Regions from separate parts of the Homo sapiens genome. Here region 1 is reported to be linked to region 2. The links are microRNA targets in miRTarBase. Many come from high-throughput screens and were not tested one by one. Region 2 holds a microRNA gene; the other region holds the end of a gene's coding sequence.

Region 1 (3,065 bases), not on the chromosome of region 2:
AACCAAATCTTTTTATTTCTTCTCGGTGAAACTTCTAATTCTCAATTTCTCCTCCTGGGCCTTGCAGAATTGGAATCCTAGTCAATGGTGTAAGAGGGCTAAGAGCTATTAGTTTTATCTTAAGGCATATATTCCTTATGTAGGGGCAACAATGTAAACATTGCAGACCTTGAGCATTCTCTAACATGTAGTTAGATTTCCATAAGGAAATGTGCAAGCTAGATCCCTCTCAAGCGCACTTCACAATAGGATTCCTGCTATGAAAATCTGCTGTTGCTGATCTGACAGGCGGCGGAGCTCAGGCAATCCATGGCCAGGAGATCGGAAACCCCTGCTCCCAGGTCTACAAATCTTTTGACACAGCCTTATTTCCACTTGCTGGGACCCTGTTGATTTCCTGAGAAGTTTCACAAAAGCCTAGTATAAAACTATTTAACTTAGCAATCTTCCAAATGAACTTTACATTTGGTTTTAGTAGTCTCAGCCCTACAGCTATAAGAAATGGATTGTTTGTATTGGCATATAAAAGCCTCCAAGTCCCTTTGCCTTGAGGCAGTAACTTTAAGACTCAAATTTATCCTTTCCCATGGCTTTTGTCTGATTCAGCTGCCCATGGCAGCAGTTACCTAGGGGTTACCTACGGGTAACTGCTGCCTCCCTTTCATGAAACTGGCGACTAGCATTACAGCACATCAAAAGACTACCACTTTGTCTCACTACTTCTCAGTCTATCTCAACTTGGTAAAATTCCAAATTTTCCTCAGTCTTTTGCCTGTTAACACTCTTTGTAGCCATGTCAAATGGCTAAAATTCTTTCAAATCTAAAAGCCAGAAAACAACTCAAACTAGCCTAAAAAAGGAAACTTTCAATCAGCAGGATAAAGGATGGCTACACAACTAAAGGGCTAAAACTCAGGCTTTAGGATAGAAACCGAGGGTTATGTTCGAGATTATCAGGAGTGTGAACTCGCAAGCCATCAGTTAACTGATGGGGAGAGGTTTGGTTGGGGAGAAAATGGTGGAGAATGTAGTTACTTCAGGAAAGGATGCCTGTATATACTACCACGATAAAACCAGGTTTCTCAGCCTTTAATGTATCCATCCATAACACAACCCCCTCTGGGACCACACCCTAAAACTCAACTTTATATATAAATACTACAAATTCTTGTTTCAAAACTCATTGAGAACAATTTGAAATAACCCATCAGGCATATACTAAGTTGTTTCCACATGCTTATCAGAAACAAACCTAAGGGTAGTTCTCTAAGCATATTAATTTACCACAAGTTGGCAAACACTGAAAACACCCTGGACAGTAAGTTTTACAAATTAAGACCTGCCAATACTGCCTATGCTCCATTACTGGTATTTTCCATCACCCAGGTACCCAGATTTGAGACATCATGATCAAGAGAACTGTGGACTAAGATCACCTAGGTTCAATTCAGATCGTGGCATTGCCACTTAAACAGCTATTTGAACTAAGGTAAGTTACTCTACATCATTTCATTGCTAAAGATTATATGTAAAGTTCTTCCCAAAGTACCTGAAACATACTAATACCTAGATGCGATAAAGGTTAGCAAGGCAACAAAATAACCCACCTGTAGCAACATCCCTACAATTGGTCATGAAAATTACTTAAATGCAAAATAATAAGAACATGTATTAAAGTACCCGCAGTCTAGTTATTTACTGTAACTCCATCCCCAAATGGAGATCACTCTAATACCTAGTTATGCACTCTGAATTTTCCAGGAATACAGAAATTCATCCCCCCCTCAACCCAGCCCAAAATAGCAAAGATACACCTCAGCCCAAGGAACACACTGCCCTAACGATTAAACTACAGAAGAACTCTAATTATAATAGAACAAGAACACTTCTTTGTGAACAGCTGCACCAACATTTTTCTTTTCATTTGCGTTTATTTAAACACAGTTCTCAAAACATTTGAGTGAAATTGGGCCTCCTTTGGTAAGCAAAGGACCTGAAAATAATATTTAAAAAATGAACAGGCAAAGTCTTCAGTTCATCCATGACAGGTATAGTGTTCCCTTATCATGTACTTTGAAGCACCCGGTTTTTTCATATAGTCTAAAAGCTAGAAGAACAAGAGTGTATTTGTGGTGGAATGTATTGTCACTTGCTGATAACTAGTTGAAATACCATTATCCCCTTGTAACACCTTTAAGAAACAGCCTTTTAAGGCATACACTGTGTAACTCTTCGTATTTCCTGCTATACATATTACAGATTACATAAAAGCCGACAAATCCACATTGATATAAGCATTAAGCACTGGCTGTATTTTAAGATTTTTAGTTCTAATACTAGCAGTACAGAGTTACAGAGCATAATTTTAAACACTTAGTTGCAGGTATATAAGTATGGTATGTTTCATGGACTGGAGGAAAACGGGCATTTGTCTTTAAATTTACTACTGACAATCTGAATAGTTCTGCTAAGCATTGATATGTTAGAAAGAAAAGTAAAAATCAAACTGTTTATTGTTGCTTTTTGCCATTTGGTAGCATTTTACACAGGCTTCGATCTTCAGAATACCCTGGATTCAGTAGAAAAACCTTTTAAATGAAGTTTTGTACAATAGAAACTTCTCAGCAGTCAAAATTTAGACTGTAAAAAAATACATGCAAAACATACTTTTCTGAAAACACTTAACTTGGAACAAAGCACCAAACTACACAAATGCAGAATGAAAACAGCATTTCAACTCCACCAAAAGTAGTCATCGTAAAAGGTGTAAAAGTCACCTAACTTCACTAGGCACTGTTCACTTTTTAAACAAGAGACAATAAAAAATATTGCCCACAAACAATATCCCAGCTCTAGGGCAGGTTTCAGAAAGTCTTCATGCTTTAATAGCGACCTGGGAAGAAAAGAATGAACATGCTTTAATATTAAGTGAACTAATTATCAAGTATACTTTAATGCCGAGAATTTCAGAATATTCTGCCATTAAGAAATTCCTATGTGCCAGAACCCCACCACCCCCAAATAGAGAAAGACTTCCATGTAAGTATTACACCAGAAATGAGATA
Region 2 (3,161 bases):
GTGAGGGCACCCGTGTGCGATGGCCTGGGACGGGGGTGTGCGGAGCCCTGACCGTGGCACACGCCCTTCAGCTTTGATGTTTCAGGCCCTTGCTCTGGTCATCAGTGAGCAGAAGGTCTAACAGCAGTGATATTTATCACTAGTTGTGTTGGCCAATGTGTTAGGAGGGTGAAGCTGTTTGACTTAAGCTGCTTGATTGGTTTGCATTTAAATAGACACCTGGTGGCCTGGTGCCTGGACACTTGCTCTGTGACCTGCCCCGTGTGGCTCCTCCCTCTGGCATGCATTAGATGAGATGGGCGTGTTTAGGGCGATGTGGCCCTAGACTGGAATGCATTCGAAGTGCAAACCCTGCCCCACCCCAGACCTGCCCCACCCCAGTGTGACGTTAGGAGGCGGAGGCCCAGCATCCTTCACCTGCCCTCCAGGTGGGTCTGAGGATGCTGAGGTTTCAGAGCACTGCTTTGCTAGCACACCAGCGAGTCCTGCTTAAAGAGGCCAGGATCTGAAAGGGCAGGTTACCAAATTGTGTAGCAGAAAAATAGAAATGTTTCCTTAGAAGGGGTGTAGGAAGGAAAATAATTTCCTTCATCATATCTGGAAAAGATTTCAAATTAGTAGGCACTATTTGGAATTATTAGTGGTCTCCTGTATTTCTTTCTTTCTTTCCTTTTTTTGATACAGGGTCTCGCCCTGTTGCCCAGGCTGGAGTGCAGTGGTGCAATCTTGGCTCCCTGCAACCTCTGCCTCCTGGGCTCAGGTGATCCTCCCACCTCAGCCCCCTGAGTAGCTGGGACTACAGGCGCGCTACCACACCTGGCTCATTTTTGTATTTTTTTTTGTAGAGATGGGGTCTTGCTATGTTGCCCAGGCTGGTCTCGAATTCCAGCATTTCTTCTGCCTCAGCCCCCCAAAATGCTTCTGTACCCCTGCCCCAACAAGGAAGGACAAGAGGTGTGAGCCACACACACGCCTGGCCTCCTGTCTTTCCTTGTTGGAGCAGGGATGTAGAAGCACTTGCCGCAGCCGACTTGAGTACATCTGACTTTACTTAGCTTTCCTCATGGGTAGCCTGGCAGTGCTGTGCACCAGTGCTGCTGGCCAGCTGTTTTTTCAATGTACTGGCAGAAAATCAAGCTGACACCCGGGTTCCTTTCTCCCTGGGTACTGACCAGGTGGGAGAGGAGGGGCGTTGTGTGAGTATCATCTTCATGAGGGCTGGTGGGGGAACATCAGCTTTAAGGTGCCTGGGATCTAAGGCATGGAACCCAGCAGTGCAGAGGAACGTAGGGGATGTAGCCTCGGGAGCAGAGATGTGCGGGCCGGTGCCCTCGTTCCTGGCGGGGTCTGAGTGCAGGAATAGGTTGGTGACCCAGCCGAGGTCACAAGACCTGCCTGGATGCATGGCTGGCGTCCGTGCTGGCCCCAAAACTGCCCATTTGGGGATTCCCCTCAGTCACAGACTCACCTAGGGGTCCGGAGAGCGTCCCCACTATGACCTCAAAGAACGAGGTGTTGCCTTGAGATCTTCCAAGGTGAGGGTAGGATTTTTTTTTTTTTGCAATTAGCAATAATTTGTTGTGAATGATCTTGGACCTATTTTCCACTTCTTTGTATAGGAAGAGAGACAGAATAAAAAGTCTCAATGTGCCAGATGCCATGTAATGAAGCCATGGGGTTAACGTTGTTGATTATTACGTAGCATCACGTTAATTGGAACATATTCACACGTGTCCACAGCGTGTGCGTGTGCCCAGTCCGATGAGCACGTTGGGTTAGGGTCGCTGCTGGTTCATGCAGCCCCTCTGGGTGGGGCTGTCTCTGTGGCTTGGCCAACACCCTTGCTGCTGCCACTGTTGGAGTCTCCAGCCTTGACCGGCCTTGCTGCCCCCAGGTTCTCGGAGCCTGCGCACCCTCTTCCCGGCGCCCACCCTCTTCCCGGCGCCCACCCTCTTCCCGGCGCCCACCCTCTTCCCCGCGCGCAGCCTCTTCCCCGCGCGCAGCCTCTTCCCCGCGCGCACCCTCATCCCCGCGCGCACCCTCTTCCCCGCGCGCACCCTCATCCCCGCGCGCAGCTTCTTCCCCGCGCGCACCCTCGTCCCGGCACGCACCCTCGTCCCCCGTCGCGTCTACCCGGGGTCTGTCGTGTGTTTCTACTCTGGCCATGCCCGCCTCTTGCTGTGAGCTAAGTTTATTGAGGTGCAGTAAGAAACCAACAGAGGGGAGCAGAGTCCGAGGCTGTCAGGGCGCAAGGGAGCCTTGGGCATCTCTTCCCCAGCTCTGGCGACCCACCCTTCGGGTTGAAGTGCAGGGGAGAGGTGAGTTCTAAAGGTAAGGCTGCGGTGATTTCCTGAGCCTTAATTATCTAACACTTGGCCATCTGCCGTGTGACCCCATCGAAGGGCACCTCTGGGGACAAAGCAAAGCCCTTGGTGGCCGTGGGCGGGGCGGCCGTGCCTGTCTGTGTGTCCTGCACCGGGAGCCCCGCCAGCCGTGGGGACGTTCAGGCACTTGCCACCTGTGGGAGGTGTGTGTTAGCCGCGTGGTAGGTGCGGATGCGTGGAGGGACAGGCACAGGCCCACAGGCGTGGCGGGTATGGGAGATTTAGCCGCGTGGAGATGCGTGGAGGGACATGCACAGGCCCACATGCGTGGCGGGTGTGGGAGATTTAGCCGCGTGGGGATGCGTGGAGGGACATGCACAGGCCCACAGGCGTGGCGGGTGTGGGAGAAAGCGCGCAGAGTGCCCAGCAGATGCCGCGTGGTCAGCGGAAGCCTTGGATACAGGCCGGGCGGGGGAGGGACATCTGGAAATACGCTTTAAGCAGCATCAATGGATAATGCTGTGATTTTCCTTCTTTTCGTGGTCCAAAACACGTTCTAGTGATGTCGCTGATTTGTGTGTACCTGGGACAAGGAACTAAATATATTAGGGCCTTGATGTAATCTGTAAAACAGGCACAATATGCCTATTTCAAAGAGGCAGTGGACATGAAAGACTGCTCTAAACTATTCAGTGCAATGAGAATGCTTCGTTGTCATTAGCAAAGTAAAATGCCTCCAAGGCGAGCTTGCCATGCGTTTAATGACCTTGGACGTGAGCTTCCTAAACCTGCCAGAAAGTGCTTCCAGCGTGGCTTCATGCAGTGGCTTCAGTGGAG

What was found. The annotated mature microRNA hsa-miR-5699-3p reads UCCUGUCUUUCCUUGUUGGAGC and lies in region 2 at 980-1,001, shown strand. An mRNA with a match to its seed (bases 2 to 7 or 8) in the 3' UTR can be bound and repressed. Matches are read on the target gene's strand: a 7mer-m8 pairs with bases 2 to 8, a 7mer-A1 pairs with bases 2 to 7 and ends in A, and an 8mer does both.
Region 1: the mRNA of TRA2B is a reported target of hsa-miR-5699-3p. The part of its 3' UTR that is shown has no 7-base or 8-base seed match.

The regions. Positions count from the first base shown.
Region 1 is chr3:185,914,833-185,917,897 of GRCh38, forward strand. It overlaps TRA2B (transformer 2 beta homolog), which reads right to left. Exons shown (of 9, transcript NM_004593.3): 9 at 1-2,893. The coding sequence ends at 2,883. Among named protein-coding and RNA genes, the nearest start is that of TRA2B, 22 kb to the right of the region's middle.
Region 2 is chr10:639,539-642,699 of GRCh38, reverse strand. It overlaps MIR5699 (microRNA 5699), which reads left to right and starts at 922; the gene lies at 922-1,011. The region is part of intron 1 of DIP2C (disco interacting protein 2 homolog C); the gene reads left to right. It overlaps LOC124902361, which reads left to right. Exons shown (of 1, transcript XM_047426106.1): 1 at 1-3,161. RefSeq lists an enhancer at 2,072-2,978.